2 separate regions of the Homo sapiens genome follow, and region 2 is linked to region 1. Evidence: fine-mapped expression QTL. A gene starts in region 1. The other region holds a variant in brackets. All regions are shown on one strand. Distances are between the middles of the regions. Region 1 holds the start of AP2B1 (adaptor related protein complex 2 subunit beta 1). Region 2 holds the start of LOC107985033 (a long non-coding RNA gene).

Region 1 (2,916 bases):
TATACATCATCCTTTCTGCTTCCTTGAAAGTTTCAACGGCTAAGATACTGCAAACAGTTCTCACCTTACCAGCACGCTTAGTCATCACTGGAATGTCTTAACACGTTTTCTTATAGAGCTGCACCTCCTTCATCTGCTGCTTTCTATTACTACTTTGTAAGTGTACCCTGAGGCTAAGCAATTGAAGTATACAAGGAAGGTAACTAATCATTTAAATTGATTCTCATTGAGACCACCTTCTTTCTTAGTCATTCTGCCTTTCTAAGCTTAATGCATTTACTTTCTTTTAAACCACAATGGTTATGATAAGTCTTTGGCAGTTTTCAAAACATTTTTTCTTCTCAAAAGTCAAGTTTGGCTGGGCGCGCTGGCTCACGCCTGTAATCACAAAACTTTAGGAGGCCGAAGCGGGAGGATCGCTTGGGCCCAGGAGTTCGAGACCAGACTGGGCTACACAGTAAGACCCTGTCACTAAAAATACAAAAATAAAATAAAATAAAAGTCAAAAGTTTAATGAAGCATCCGCGTGAGTTCAATAAAGGCCTGTCCCCCCCCACCCCACCCCTCCAATAGAAGACTACTCTTGAAAACAAGCAGCATGAACAAATGATTTGGATTCAAATGATAAGGAAATAACAGGACGTTCCAGTTTCTTTACTTTCAGCTTAATCTACAGCCTTTCCCAAACCAGACCATTACTGCAGAGCCCAGAAAAAGAAAAAAAAAAAAAAGATGCTGGGTTAAGATTTGCCCCCATTTGCTTCCCCCTCTCTTACATCGGGTCAATTCTGGAGGTTACTCTTTCCTTCCTCCAAGAGTAAGGAATGCCTCTTCTTTCCCCAGGTGGTCAAGATTCTAGCGATATGCTCCTCCATTACGGAGCAGGGAAGAGGTTGTCTCTTACCCTCAAGTTACCCGAGAGACGACGTTCGCCCATCAATGAGCAAACCTTTGAGGGAATCCCTTTTCCCTTTGGCTTGCTGGACACGTCTCAGCCTCTCAGTGAACGACGCCGAGCGGGGAAGAAAGACGGTTCCCCCCACGGCCTCCAGGCTCTATCAGCCACACCCCTGGCCTCTGGTCCCCCTAAACCCTCAATTCCGAAACACATCTTCCCCTCCTGCCCCCAACTACCTGCTGCCACACCCGAGGATTCCCTCACCGCACCACAGGCATCATGGTAGAGACCCTTTCTCCAACCTTTTCCCTCTCAATGGTCACACCCGACGGTTCCCTGCATCATCAACGGTCACGCTCTTAGGATTTCCTCGCCTCCGCCGGTCTCCGACCCAGCCTGGTGTTACCCTTCTCTCCGTCCCCGACCCCGTCAATTAGGGACACACCCTAAAGGCAACCGCCCTGAACTCACCGGAGGCGGAGGCGAAGGCGAGGGCGGGGGTGGCGGCGGGAGCCGGAGAGCACAGCCCAGGTGGTGGTGTAATGGTTTCCTGCCCGTCACGATTCTTTTCTAGGTCTAAGCCACTGCGCAAAACCCACTTTGCCAGGGACAAAGATGGTGGGCAGGAAACTCTGACGTCAGAGAACGTCGCCGCGTGACGTCATCGGGGTGCGCGGTAGACCTAGAAAGCCTGTGATCTCTTGTCGCCTTCCAGACCCAAAGATTTCCTTTGGTCCCGGCAAGCTAGCCCATCTGGGCCTCAGAGGATGTTAAGTGGCTACTCCAAAGGGATATATTTTAAAAAGCTGACAATGGATTTGTTTCCTCGCACAGAAATTCTCTGAAAAACGTAAACATAGAGATGATGAAATATCCTGTTCCTTTCTGAAAAAACAAAACCCCTCAGCTCATTTTCCTTCCAGGCTCAAGGGCGGACAATGGTGATATAGCCCAGGCCTATATACGGGCAGTGGGGCTAGAGGATAGTGCTGCACGTAAAAGAGGTTGAGGAGGCATTGGATGTGAGTTTGAATCCCTACCCTGAATGTGACTGAGACAGTTAATGTCTCATCAACCTTCTTATCTGTGAAATGAAGACAATGATAGTATCTCTCTCGGGCATGTGAAGTTTAAACCAGATAAATTAGGTAAAGTGCCTAGTATATAATAGGTGTGCTTACACAAAAGTAAGTTTCTTTCGGACACTAAGAGCTAGATTCCAGGACCTGGAACTGGAGAACAAGATTGATGATGTTAAATGAACTAGCTGTCCCTAAGGTTAATTTCAGGGTGTAAGGAAGGATGGAGAGCAAAGTGATGATTTTTCTCACATTTTGCCTATGAACTCTGTGAGTCAAAAAGTGTTTCAGTATTTTAAAACTTCATTCTTAAAAAAGTGATCAGAAGTACATTAAAATTTTGTATAACATACTCATGTATTATTATTTCCTCTGTTATTAAAATAGGGGAATAGGGGAAATTAGAAAGCCAGGTATAAGGTGAGAGAATGCAAACAGTTATGGTAAATCAGATAGCTGCATAATGTTATAGAATATTTTATGACAGAAAATTCATAAAGTGTTAAGCAAAAAAAGGACACCAAACAATACAGTATACAGTATGACTATATATGTATAGAAAAAAAAGGCTAGGATAGGCCAGGCGTGGTGGCTTACACCTGCAATCCCAGCCCTTTAGGAGGCTGAGGTGGGTGGATCACCTGATGTCGGGAGTTTGAGACCAGCCTGGCCAATGTGGTGAAACCCTGTCTCTACTGAAAAAACAAAAATTAGCTGGGGGTGGTGGCACACGCCTATAATCCCGGCTACTCAGGCGGCTGAGGCAGGAGAATGGCTTGATCCCAGGAGGTAGAGGTTGCAATGAGCCCAGATCTCGCCACTGCACTCCAGCCTGAGTAACAAAGCCAGACTCATCTCAAAAGAAAAAAAAAAAAAAAAAGCTTGGATATTCAGCAGAACGTTAAAAGTGGTTATTGCAGGATAGTGAGAGTTTTATTT
Region 2 (2,916 bases), 35 kb after region 1:
CCCAGCACTTTGGGAGGCCAAGGCGGGTGACCTCAACTGAGGTCAGGAGTTTGAGACCAGCCTAGCCAACATGGTGAAACGCTGTCTCTACTAAAAATACAAAAATTAGCCAGGTGTGGTGGCATGTGACTGTAATCTCAGCTACTCCAGAGGCTGAGGCAGAAGAATCACTGGAACCAGGGAGGCAGAGGCTGCAGTGAGCCAAGATCACACCACTGCACTCCAGTCTGGGTGACAGCGAGACTCCGTCTCACAAAAAAAGAAAAAATTTTCCAGACATTGCCAAATGTCCGTGGGGATGGGGGAGAGTTGGGGAGTAAAACTGCTCCTGATTAAGAATCACAATTCTAAAGGAAAGCTCTTATTTTCCCAAATGCACCAGGTATCATTTTTTTCTGCAACGTTGCAGGAATACTTACCACATGCTTTTGTAAGTTTTGGTAACATCTATTCCTTGAATTTTCAGTGACACAGGAAGAGGTACAATTTAAACCAGAATCCCTCTGTAAGAAGCTGTTCTCAGATCATAAAGAACTGGAGGGTTTAATGAAGACCCTGATACATCCTTGTTCTCAGGGGATTGTGATATTTTCTAGAAGCTGGGCTGGTGATGTTGGCTTCAGGAAAGAACAGAATGTCCTGTGTGATGCTCTCCTGATAGCAGTTAACAGCCCCGTGGTACTCTATACAATCTTAATAGACCCCAATTGGCCTGGAGGACTTGAATATGCCCGAAACACAGCTCATCAGTTAAAGCAGAAACTGCAAACTGTTGGTGGTTACACAGGGAAAGTGTGCATCATTCCAAGGCTGATACACCTGAGCAGCACACAGAGTAGACCTGGTGAGATCCCCCTGCGTTACCCCAGGTCCTACAGGCTTGCTGATGAGGAGGAAATGGAAGACTTGCTGCAGGCTCTGGTGGTGGTCTCCCTGTCCTCCAGATCTCTTCTGAGTGACCAGATGGGCTGTGAATTTTTCAACTTGCTCATAATGGAGCAGAGCCAGTTGCTTTCTGAGAGTCTTCAGAAGACACGTGAATTATTCATCTACTGCTTTCCAGGAGTCAGGAAGACAGCCCTAGCCATAAAGATCATGGAGAAAATTAAGGACTTGTTTCACTGCAAACCAAAAGAGATCCTCTATGTTTGTGAAAGCGACTCCCTAAAGGATTTTGTGACGTAAGAGTTTTACCAACTACACACACACAAAAATATGTATGTGTATATATATATGTGTATATATATGTGTATATATATGTGTATATATATATGTATATATATGTGTATATATATACACATATATATATATTCTTTTTGCAGTTGCAAGATTTAATAGAGTGAAAACAGAGCTCCCATACAAAGGGAGGGGACCCAAAGAGGGTAGCCGTTGCCAGCTTGAATGCCTGGGTTTATATCCCGATCATTGTCCCTCCTGCTGTGCTCTCAGGCAATAGATGATTGGCTATTTCTTTACCTCTTGTTTTTGCCTAATTAGCATTTTAGTGAGCTCTCTTTCTTATCTGATTGGTCGGGTGTGAGCTAAGTTGCAAGCCCCATGTTTAAAGGTGGAAGTGGTCACCTTCCCAGCTAGGCTTAGGGATT[T/C]TTAGTCAGCCTAGGAAATCCAGCTAGTCCTGTCTCTCAGTGCCCCCCTCAACAGGAAAACCCAAGTGCTATTGGGGAAGTTGGCCGACCACCGCTCTAACTGCTTCCTGCTGAATTGGGGCGTAGTAGGGGTTCTGCAGTTGAGATTTCCTCGGGAGGGGTGCCTTTGATGTCATTAACATTGGAGCATGGGCTAGCAGGCCGGTCCAGGGGTCCGTGGTAGATTTTACTCATGGATTGCATCTGGGGCTCCATTTGAAGAACCATTTGTAGCTTTGCAGCTTCGATTCTGGAAGAGACAAACTTAACAAGGAGGTTAAAGATACAGGGTCCAATTAACAAGGAGGTTAAAGATACAGGGTCCAAAGAGGAGTAACAATATTATAGCTGCTAGAGGTCCTAAGAAGGGGAGAATCCGGGGCATCCATTGGCTGAGGAGGCCCCAGGGGCCAGTGTTTTGAAGCTCCTCTGCTCTACGTTGTATTCGATCTCGAATTTCTTTAACTTTTTGGTGACGATTCCGGATTGATTAACATAATAACAGCATTCTTCCCCTAAAAATAAACAGGTTCCCCCTCTTTCGGCGGCTAGCAAGTCTAAAGCTCTTCTATTTTGAACGACTACTGCTGCTAGGGAGTTAAGTTGATCTTGCAAGGTGACCAGGGAGTCAGAGACCCGTTCCATGTCACCATTTAGTTCTTGAGATAGTTTGTAGTAGAACTGAATAGAGGTTGTGATACCGCCAGTGCCAGTACCTACTCCACCTAGCACTCCTGCTCCGATAACAAAAGGAAGAATGGGTACCCTTTTGTTGCGGGGCTTAGGTACGACATGATTGTATAAATCTTGTTCAGTGTAGATGGTCATAGGGGGCGCTAAGAATGAGAGGAAGCATATAGATTCTGAAGAGCCATTCAAACAACGATAGGCTGAGGTACCACAGACAAAAAATATTCCTGAGGGTAGGCAGACTATTCGTGTGGGAAGAGTTACCCACCTGATGTGCTGGGAGTTGGTTGCACACACACACAAAAATATATTTAGTCAGTCTTTTCAAGAGTGTCACAAAAGTGATTTGTGTTTTTAGTTTAAGTTTTTGCAGTGCCTTAGTTGCATAAGTGCAAGAGCCCAAACTATATACACATTTCCAAATAATCATGGAATTGAGCTGTAAACAGGTAATTTATAATGTTCAACCTTAAACATCTCATTATAAATAACCCACATGTGCATAACTTACATTTACAGAACCAGAAACTTTTTTTTTTCTCACAATCCATGGCCTTACATTTAAGAGAAGTAGAAATGAACC

Evidence for each region. PIP is the estimated chance that this variant, and not a neighbour inherited with it, causes the effect. A credible set is the group of variants that fine-mapping cannot tell apart.
Region 2: its variant is the best candidate, but not a certain one, in a credible set for the expression of AP2B1 in whole blood (TOPMed, PIP 0.65).

The regions. Positions count from the first base shown.
Region 1 is chr17:35,585,882-35,588,797 of GRCh38, reverse strand. AP2B1 (adaptor related protein complex 2 subunit beta 1) reads right to left here and starts at 1,476. Exons shown (of 22, transcript NM_001030006.2): 1 at 1,370-1,476. RefSeq lists enhancers at 960-1,069, 331-1,530, 1,500-1,669 and a silencer at 1,300-1,419.
Region 2 is chr17:35,550,995-35,553,910 of GRCh38, reverse strand. SLFN14 (schlafen family member 14) reads left to right here. Exons shown (of 6, transcript NM_001129820.2): 5 at 467-1,181. It overlaps LOC107985033 (a long non-coding RNA gene), which reads right to left and starts at 706. Exons shown (of 2, transcript NR_138032.1): 1 at 420-706. The variant T/C (reference allele first, on the strand shown) is at 1,605.